2 separate regions of the Homo sapiens genome follow, and region 2 is linked to region 1. The links come from fine-mapping of genetic effects on gene expression. Tissue or cell type: whole blood. Region 1 holds a variant in brackets; the other region holds the start of a gene. All regions are shown on one strand. Distances are from middle to middle. Region 1 overlaps ZNF438 (zinc finger protein 438). Region 2 holds the start of ZNF438 (zinc finger protein 438).

Evidence for each region.
Region 2: ZNF438 starts here. The variant in region 1 is fine-mapped to the expression of ZNF438 in whole blood (TOPMed, PIP above 0.99).

Annotation. Positions count from the first base shown.
Region 1 is chr10:30,981,282-30,986,663 of GRCh38, reverse strand. ZNF438 (zinc finger protein 438) reads left to right here. Exons shown (of 7, transcript NM_001143768.2): 2 at 2,238-2,295. Among named protein-coding and RNA genes, the nearest start is that of ZNF438, 48 kb to the left of the region's middle. The variant C/T (reference allele first, on the strand shown) is at 3,339.
Region 2 is chr10:31,028,962-31,034,343 of GRCh38, reverse strand. It overlaps ZNF438 (zinc finger protein 438), which reads left to right and starts at 2,479. Exons shown (of 7, transcript NM_001143768.2): 1 at 2,479-2,511. It overlaps LOC105376481 (a long non-coding RNA gene), which reads right to left and starts at 1,836. Exons shown (of 3, transcript XR_001747410.3): 1 at 1-1,836. RefSeq lists a silencer at 2,258-2,817.

The DNA.
Region 1 (5,382 bases):
AATGTTTCAAAATTTTTAAAAACTCTGAATTCAAAACACTTCCGACCCCAAACATTTCAGGGTAAGGGATACTGAACCTATAAAATTTATTTGTAACTGCAAAATCAATACTCATGACACTAGGCATTCAACTGAGTGCATGACTGCAAATGGTACAGAATGGTGAAAAATTTGGATTGCTCAACACATTCCTAGTTGACAAGCTGATTTCCTTCAGCTCTCATACGGTAAACAAGTCTCCTTTTTGTGGTTTATATAGTGCCATGATTTTTGCTTTTTTAGGCTTATGATTTCTGTGTTTAAAATGACTACCCAGTGTGGAACTGAAGTGCTGTATATTGCGCCTAAGTGCAAGAAGGCTGTGATGTGCCTTAAGGAGAAAATGCATGTGATAGATAAACTTATAGTGCTGTTGGCTATGAGTTCAGTGTTAGTGACTCAACAGTGAACAGCCATACATTGCTTAACAACAGGGTTAAATTCTGAGAAATGTATCATTAGGTGATTTTGTCATTGTGAAAGTATCATAGAGTGTACTGATATGAATCTATAGCTTACTATACACGTAGGCTATTTGGTATAGCCTCTTGTTCCTGGGCTACAAACCTGTACAGTGTGTTACTATACTGAATTCGTAGGCAATTGTAACACAATAGTAAATATTTATTTATCTAAACATAGAAAATGTACAGTGAAAATATAGCTTGATAATCTTATGGGACCACCTCCATCATATATGCAGTCTGTTGTTGACTGACACATCATGCAGTGGATGACTATATATTAATAAGGTATCTTGAAACAGAAATATACATAAAATGAGGTTATGTTTGATCAGCTAATTAAAATGTAATCAGAGGCTCTCAGGAGCTCTCAGGAACCCAACCCTGAATTTCCCTTATGAGTAAACAGTTTGGTATTCCCTAATTCAGTGTTCATGGTGACTTCATAGAACTTAACTACTGTGAATAAGGAGAACCAACGGTAATTTTGTCTTTGTTGTTGAACTTCTAAACTGATTTTTAAGTAGCAATTAAAGCAATGTCAAGTGTTTCATATTCTACAGAATGAACTTCCAAAAGCTTTACTTTGGTTTCATGAATTAGATGAAATCATCAAACCATTATTGGAATTAACTGATTTTTCTGGTTGGTACATCTCCTGATGCTGACAGAAAGCTGGCAACATTTAACTGTGAGTTTTTCTGTTAATGGAGCCAACCAGTTTTCACTTTACTTTGATGATGTAAAAGAGACGCTTTAGAATCAGAACTAAGTGCATTTTTTTAAAAAGTCATTGGATCTAGATGAAAAGTCATGCTTTAGAGAATAATACGTAAAACACTTTCTCTGTCCTGTCTGCTTTCATTAAATCCGTGTCTTTAAGCTAGCCATGAGCAGGGAGCAGTATTCAGTATTTCTTCTACCTTCATTCAAGACTGGAGGAGTTAGCTGTCCCTACCTGCTCCTGCCTAGGTATACTTTTTCTGCATGGTGCCTGGGTGCTGTCTTTAAGAATGAAGTATCAGTTACAGTACATTTAGTACATTTAGAAATGGGTTACTGCTAGGTGTCTTAAAGATTTAAGCAAGTTGCGAAATTGACAACTGGCTTCATTGCACATGCATCTCACACATGGCTCAATGAGATTATGGCAGAGCCTAAAAGTACAAGTAAGTCTTAGCATATTTTAATGCTATCATTAAAAAAAATCATTAGAAAATGAAAAATCCAGGACAAATGGTAAATTTGTGGGACACTGGGACAATGGCCGTAAATTGGGACTGTCTCAGGCAAACTGACACACTTTACTAGACATGTGTCCTTTTAAAAATCTTCAAATCCCAAACTCTTGATTACTGTTTTCCTGTCAAAAAGGCTGCGCCCTGAATATGAATCACTTGTTTGTGACTGTTTACTAATTTCCACAGTATTATGCACATGGAAAAGAATGTGAAGCATTCTTCTTAGCCAGTTTTATTCATTGTGGCATTTCTTTTTTTCTGGAACATTTTCTATTTATCTTAAAACTTTTATTAAATTTTGCATGCTTTCATTTTTAAACTAAAGACATGTAATCAACTATGGAATTATTTTCTTCTACATTAGTTCTTTTATTATCTTAATAAAAATATACAGTAATTAAAAATGAAACTTGAAAAGAAGGCACCTTTTACATATATTTGATGAAAATGGATTATCTGAATATGATTATAATAATACTTTGTATTGTTACAGAATTAATTAAAAGGATTTACGGTATATCTTATGACTCTACAGGAGCCTTGGGATATAGGTAAGTGACAAGCATTTTTTGAAGAGAGATTTCTGAAACATTAAGTAATTTGATCTCATAGGTTCCTGGCAAAGTAGACAGTGGGGCATATCTTACTTCAGCAATTAACTCTTTTCTCTTCAGTATAACATTTGTAGAAATATCACATTTACATGAATCTTCATGTAACATTTCCCTAATAGCTAACAAATCATATTTCCCAGGGAATTTTAGGCTTATTTGTATAATAATTACAATGAAGATATTGTTTATAAGACATAGAAGTATGGCATGTAGCAAAATTTAGAGCATTAGAAAAAATAATTAAATGCAATATGGTACCCTGGGTTATACCTAGGAACTAAAGAAAGACAGTAGAAAAACAGGTGAAATATAAATGAAGTCTATAGTTAATAGTAATCAATTAGAAATTAATCAATGTTAATTTCTTAGTTTTGACAAATGTCCTGTGGTTATGTAAGATGTTTAACTTTATGGACAACTGGATGAAGGGTGTATAGGAAGTCTATACTATTTTTGTATCTATCTTGTAAATCTAAAATTATTTCAAAATAAGTTTACTTGAAGCACAAAAGTCAGTTTATTGATTCAAAATGTATAGTTTAGAAGTAGATTTTCTGGACCATGGTTTAAAAAAATAAAAAAAATAATTTGAAAAATCCAGATTACATAAAAACGATTCAAGGAAATACATGGCTATAGGTTTCATTTTTCAGTTTATAGGAAGTATGCAATTTTATTTTTTTAACATTGGTGATATGCTTTGGATTTGTGTCCCTGCCCAAATCTCATGTCAAATTGTAATTTCCAATGTTGGAGGAGGGGCCTGATGGGAGGTGATTGGATCATGAGGGCGAATTTCCTTCTTGCTGTTCTTGTGATAGTGAGTGAGTTCTCATGAGATCCGGTTGTTTAAAAGTGTGTAACACCTCCCCCTTCACACTATTCCTCTTCAGCCATGTAAGATGTACCTGCTTCCCCTTTGCCTTCCGCTGTGGTTGAAAGTTTCTTGAGGCCTCCCCAACCATGCTTCCTGTGCAGCT[C/T]GAGGAACCATGAACCAACTAAACCTCTTTTCTTTATAAATTACCCAGTCTCAGATAGTTCTTTATAACAGCGCAAGAAAGGACTGATACAATGGGCATGGTGTTTGCGGACATCTCCTCGTACTTGGTTACAGGCTTTCTCTTTGATACTTTAAGCCACTTGTGTTCTTTGGTCCTTTTGTGTAACTTTTTCTGTTATTCCAAGCAGGCCCTTTAAATGGTTCCCAGTACACTTCTTTTTCTTTTCTTTAGTGTATTGTTTAGAGAAAAAAGTCCAATAATGTGACTCAGTGGTTTGGGGTTGAGACCCTGTTAGTGTAGTTTTGTTCAGTCACACTACTTGAGCTTCTAGGTCAAGTAGTAGACATGGTAGATGTATTGTTAACAAGTACGAATAAAGATGAATATAATTCTTACATATCCATTTCTGTAATTGAGCTAAAATAATACAGAATCTATTGCTGTCAGATAATAGAAATTCTCAGTTTCTAAAATGGACTCTAGCATGATAACTATTTTAAATTTCTATAAATATTAAAAGACTTATAAGAAGGAAACTTTGTAGTTTGCTGAAACTCTTATGTAACTTTTCATTAATAAAAGTAAAGTAGCCATGCAGGTCTTGTAGATGGTTTCCTGCTTCTGCTGCCAAATTTAATGATTTTAGTTAAATTTCATAAAGGGAAATATAAATATATTATACTTAAAGGATATAGACACTTAAAACAACAGACCCATGCCTGAATAACTCTTGCAGAATAATTGTCCGGCTTGGAAATTTCTGTGTTGCTTGGTAGTCTTTAGCCAGAATTGGTGTTAACAGTCTCATGTTAATAGAATTATAGTTAAAGAATTATAATCTATTTTTTAGTTGTTTAACATGATTGTGCTAACCTTGGTTGGGAAGTTGAGAAAAAGACAGGATGGCCGGGCGCGGTGGCTGATGCCTATAATCTCAGCACTTTGTGAGACTGAGGCAGGTGGATCACGAGGTCAGGAGATCGAGACCATCCCGGCTAACATGGAGAAACCCCGTCTCTACTAAAAATACAAAAAATTAGCCAGGCGTGGTGGCAGGTGCCTGTAGTCCCAGCTACTCAGGAGGCTGAGGCAGGAGAATGGTGTGAACCCGGGAGGCGGAGTTCGCAGTGAGCCGAGATCGCGCCACTGTACTCCAGCCTGGGTGACAGCGCGAGACTCCATCTCAAAAATAAAAAAAAAAAAAAGAAAGAGAAAAAGGATGGTTTTCTCAGGCCAAGTTTAAATTACATTGATCATGTAATAGTTCACACAAAACAAGCAAACAAGAAAAACTTATTATTCTGTGCTAGAAGAGCATTAAAAGTATTGTTTTTAGGGACATGCTTACCATTCAGCTGATTGTAATTTGTGGTCATCAAAGTGTAAATAAGAATAGCTAGTATATATTGAACTTTTTTTTTTTTTTTGAGATGGAGTCTCGCTCTGTCACCCATGCTGGCGTGCAATGGCACAATCTCGGCTTGCTGCAACCTCCACCTCCCGGGTTCAAGTAATTCTCCTTCCTCAGCCTCCTGAGCAGCTGGGATTACAGGTGCACGCCACCAGCCCAGCTAATTTTTTTTGTATTTTTAGTAGAGACATGGTTTCACCATGTTGGTCAGGCTGGTCTCGAACTCCTGATCTCATGATCCCCCTGCCTCGGCCTCCCAAAGTGCTGGGATTACAGGTGTGAGCCATCACGCCCGGCCTGAACATTTTCTATGTACCAGGCACTTTACTTACATTATCTCATATAATCTTCATAATTACCTATGAGATAGGCTGGAATTCCCTTTACAGATGAGGCTGAGAGAGAAGAGCTGTCTCCAGTCTAATTCTGAGATGGGGAGGCGGACAGAACAAGTGCCTATTATGTACAGTACCTACTGTTTGTTCATGATATAAGCAGCTCCCAGGAAATGCTGTCATGTTTCCATAAACACGTAGTAAACTTCGGATTATTTCAGCTTTTCTAGGTAAGAATATCTGATCACACTGGGTGACCTAGAGTGGATTCTCCTGG
Region 2 (5,382 bases), 48 kb before region 1:
TGCTAAACCTCCAAGGTCCAGGGTTTTATTTTCTTTAAAAAAGCAGATCCTCTCTTTAATAACAACACTTTTGGCCCTAGCTTCTCACTTCCTGTCTAGGTCAAATTCCAGTTTGTTACAGAAAGTTGACTGAACGTGAGTGGTATTTTCCCACAAATTTCTACTTGACATTCCTTGAGACTGTGATCCTTGCTTGGGTACCTTTACTGTTGGCCATCTTTTGTTCACTGCGTTTACTTTTTTCCTGCATCTAGCAAAACAACGACTTTTTTTTTTGAATACCTGAGATTTCAAGAGAAAGTATACTGAACAATACGATGAGAAGACTATATTCTACAATGCCATCTTTCAGAGGCAAAAGTATCTATAGTAAAAACATTTGATACATTTGGTGTATGCTTCTTACCCATTTCCACTCCAAAAAATAACAGATGACATGTACCTGTGAAACACTCCCATAAGGTATACCTAGAAACTCACTTAAAAAAATTACGATTTTTAGAAATGATATATATAAAACATTTTATAAGCATGTAAACTATTAACAATTTAAAGGTTTCTTAAAATTGTTTTGCAAGGAAAAACATAAATATCACTGTTTTAAAAATATGCAGGACTTTAAAAAATGTTAATTTTTCTATACCTCTGCTCTACAGAAAAACCTTATTGTTACAATTATGGTACAGCCTTTACAAATTTCTTTTACATCATTTGATAATAACTAATATTCAGATAAAATATACAAATATTTTTTCAAATCAGAACATTTAAAAACACTGACGTAGATTTTTCTGGAATAATAAACGTTTTTATTTTTAACCAGCTCAGATCTCGAATTAAAGCCTAATATTCCCATCATCACTCTTTCCTGTAAAAATAAGACAGCACTTTCAATGAGAGTGGAAATAAACCATTGTTTCAGGTTTTACTTACAACTGGAGCTGCCTTGCAAAATCCCTGCCCTGGCCATCTGCCGTGGTTCCAAATAAGTTTGTAAAAGTGAATCTTGCCATTTTCAATACTTCCTCCTTTGGGTCTATTTATTCCGAAGTCTGTTTTTCTCATTCTTTTAATTTTTTTCCCCCCAAGACGGATTTGTCTGAGACACTTTTTTGCCATAACATTTGTTTTTTCTGCTTACGAGAGTGTAAGAATTCCACAAGCCAAATGTTAATATTTTGTTGTCAGTTCTTTAAGCCTTCATTTTTTCCGTCTATCGAGCCCTTTTTTTTAACCAGAACTCATTGCTTCTGAGAGTATAAAAGAGCAAAGAGGCCGGGCGCGGCGGCTCACACCTGTAATCCCAGCACCTTGAGAGGCCGAGGCGGGCGGATCACGAGGTCAAGAGATGGAGACCATCCTGGCCAACATGGTGAAACCCTGTCTCTACTAAAACATAAAAATTAGCCGGCTGTGGTGGCGCGCGCCTGTAATCCCAGCTACTCAGGAGGCTGAGGCAAGAAAATCGTTTGAACCCGGGAGGCAGGGGGTACTGTGAGTTGAGATCGCGCCACTGCACTCCAGCCTGGGAGACAGAGAAACACTCTGTCTCAAAAAAAAAAAAAAAAAAAAGTGGGGAGCAGAGAGCCGGACTTGGACACGGGAAGGTATCGTGACATGAGTGGGTCGGGGGCTGGAAAGTTTGCCCAGGCGAAGAAGTGAACATGTTTATCCGGATCACCGTTTGTTAAATGAACAGCAACCCATAGGTAGCTTCACCGAGCCGAAACGGGAAAGGCGGCAGGCAAGGGAGAAGCTAAAATCTGCAAGAAACGGGCTGGGCTGGAGGCGGCGCCAGGGCAAGAAGGGCAGGTGGGGGCCCGCGGGAGCCGGGAGCCAGGGGCGGGAGCCGGAAGGGCGGGACCCAGGGGCAAGGCCTAAGTGGGCGTGGGAGGGGCATAGTCAAGAGATGGGCGGGGACTGCTCGGGGTCTGGGCGGAGTCTAGCGGGAGCCGCGTCGAGCCGGGGAGGAGCGAGGGACCCTGGGAGAGCTGTCTTTTCAGGGCTGAGGACCCGCCAGCACCTGATGGAGAGCAAATGGCTGTTTCCACACGTGGAGAACTTTTAACGAACACGTGAGGAAGGCGGGCAATGTCTGTGGAAAAACTACCTCACAACCCAGGCGTCTTACTCCAGCCCCCAGGGCGACAGCTTGTTTACAGTATTTCTGAAGGTCTCCGTCCCCTTTTGTCGGCCCCTCCTCCTCCTCTAACCCCGACTTCAGGCTTTGAGTGAGGCTTTGGTAGAGCAGTCGCCGCCGCAGGCGCCCCGGTCGGCGAAGCCCACAGGCATGCGGGCGCAGAGGCCGTCTGCGCCTGCGCGGGGTGTCTGCTACGGGGAGGTGCGTGGAGCTCGAGGGCGTGGAGCTCGGGGGCGTGTCTCCCGCCGCGGCGCCGGGGCGGGGCGAGGGCGGAGCCTGGGGGCCCAGCGGCCCGCGCCCCGTGGCTTGACCTCCCCGACTGCTGGGCCCGTGACGTCACCCCGCTGTGACGCGCACGCTGTAGGAAAACTGTAAGTTTACGAGGATTCCTGCAGCTCCTAGGGCTTGCGGGGCCCGCTGGCAGCTGGCAGTCCCGGCGGTGGTGGTGGCTCTGGGGGCGTCAGTTCCTTGGGGAGTCGCCGATTGTGGCGAAGGGACAGGTGTCTGCTCAGAGTGGCAGCGCGCCCTGCTGGGCGGTAGGGACCTGGGGTGCGGGAGGCGAGGCCGCGCCCCGTGGGGCCGGGCCAGCACCTTTTCCCCTGGGGCGGGGCGCGTCTCCGAGCCTGGGAGCGAGGCCTTAGAAGGGGCGGAAAGTCCAAATGGAGAGTCCCTTTTTTTCTTCCGTGATAAAGGGACTTAGATTCCTTTTCTTCCCCCTCTCAGCCTTGGAGTTTGACATGTTAAGTAGGGGATGGAAGCTTCCTCTCAGAGAATAGGAATCCTATGTCCTGGCCGTTGGGATCCCACAAGTGACCAAGTCATCGTGGACACATTTATAAGATAACCAGTTGCTGCCTCAGTTTTCTTTTTTGTGTAAAAGGGAGGTACAGCAGCCTCTGGCCTCCCTAATGGTTGTTCCCACAGCACTAGGAACACGTGAGATAACACAAGTGTGTAAATTTGCTAGGAGAAAGCTTATACACAGACACTTGGTTATTCTGAGGAATGTGGTAGCCACTGGCTATTTGACCAGGAATCTTGTAGAAGGGGAACTTTTTCACTGTTTTGCCTCCCCCCGACAACCTTCCCTCCATCTGATTCTATACCACACTGGAGCCTGTTGGGTGATCGAACTGTTGTCACTAAACTTGATAGAATGGGGATCCCAAGAAATAACAGGTATCGTTAGCACGGTACTCTTGGCAATTACAATGCCCCCGTTGTCTGGGTTTTGCAGAGGAAGCTTTCAGTGTGCTGGAACTAGCACATTATAGACAACACAGACTCACTGAGTTTTAAGGATTGCTGTATCGATTTGGAATATCCAATCATCGTATCTGACTGCTTGAATATTTTGGTCAAGGGGTACTACATTATCGATTAGTTATTACTAGACTATAATGCCTCTCAAACTCCGGGACTAGTAGTCTTCAGGAACTTTGAAGGGAAGAATACTGTGCACACTTCAGGGTGTATTTATACAGGAGCTCGAGAGTTCACATTTCTGTAAATTCATTTCAGGAGTGTGATATCTTTTCATCCAGGTAGGAAGAGCCTTTGAATCAGAAAGCAGGGCTTCTAATTTTTGTTCTATTCGTTAACTAGCTTCGTGTCCAAGGACAAGTCACGCAAACTTGGAACTTTGTTTTTCTTATCTAAAATGAGAGCCGATGGTTTATCTGTTTGTTGGTTTTTCCAGGATCAAATGAGATCACGAGAGTGCAAATGAAAGGCTAAGTGTGCTATTGTTATTAGGAGATTCGCATTGGTCCCCTAGCCTGGATGAGATGTGAGTCAGAAATCTCTGGAAATAGAGCAGCAAAGAAGACAGCCTCCAACCTAGCAGGGCTCATATTGCAGTGGGAAATAGACAACGAACAATACGTGCATAATGTAATTTCAGGTAGTCATAAGTGCAGTGAAGGGAAGGAAGAAAGGAGGACAGTGGGGGAACAGGGAAGGTTGTTTTTGGTGGGATCTGTCAGGAAAAGCCATTCAAAGGCAGGGACACTTGAAGTGTGAGGGAAAGAGCCTGAGGTAAGAACATTTCAGAGAGGAATAATTAATAGCAATGAACACTTAAAAAAAGTAGAGCTTACCATATGTAAGGCACTATTCTGAACACTAAATTAAATTTTTACAAGTCTTTTGATGTAACCTAGTATCTCCCTTTCATAGATGAGGCAACTGACACACAGAAAGGTTAAGAATTTGCCAAAGTTGCACAGCTAAAACGTGGTAGAGACTATTTGAACGTGGGCAGTCTGACTTCAGAGTCCAGGCTCCAGGTGACTGTATTTTCGGCCTCACAGCAGGAACAGCACAGGACAATGCTCTGAGGTGGTCCAGACACAGTGAGAGTGTTTAGAGCACAGCCGGGAACGGGGAAAGTAGTGGCCAATGATGGTCAAGGGCCAGGCAGGCCGTGGGGTCCCTTGTAGGCTGTGGTGAAGTAAAGATGTTGTTCTAACTGTGATGGAAAACCATTGGAAGGTTTGCATCAAGGGACTGGTGTCTGATTTAAGTTTTATTGTATGGAGAATTAACTGTAGATTAGAGTGGGTCGGATGGAGTGAAAATCGGGAGAAAGCTGCTGTGCCCTGCAGGTGAAATGATGGTGGTTTGGGCTGGGGGAGGTTAGTTGTGGAGATGATGGTAGGCGGTAGAATTGGTGATACGTTTTGAAGGTAGAGCTGACGGGAAACGAGCTGATGTGGAATTTGAAGAAAAGGGAGAAGTGATGATTTTTTAGGTTTAGGCTGGAACAACTAGAAGTATAGTGGTGCTGTTTACTGAGGAAAATTACAAATTTAGTTTTGCACAAGTTCTAAATGCCTGTTAGACATAGTCATAACAACAGTGCTAGTAAAAATAGTATTATGTAAGCGTAAACTGAGTCCCAGGCAGGGTTTTAAGTACTTTAACCTATATTAATTCATTTAATCATCATAAGAATTATATGTGCAAGGAACCATTATTGTCCCCATTTTACAGCACGAGAAAATAGAGGCAAAAAGAGGTTATAAGTGACTTGTCTGAAGTCACCCAGCTGGTGAGTGATGTAGCTAGGATTCAAACCTAAGCATTGTGGCTTTGGAGTCCATGCATTGAATCCCTGTAACCACCTCCGAGTGAACATGTTGAGTATGCATGCCTGTGAATATGGAACTCAGGGGAGTGGTCAGGGTTGGAGATACCCATTTATTTTTCTGAAGAGAAAGCATGCTTTTGTTTTTCATCTA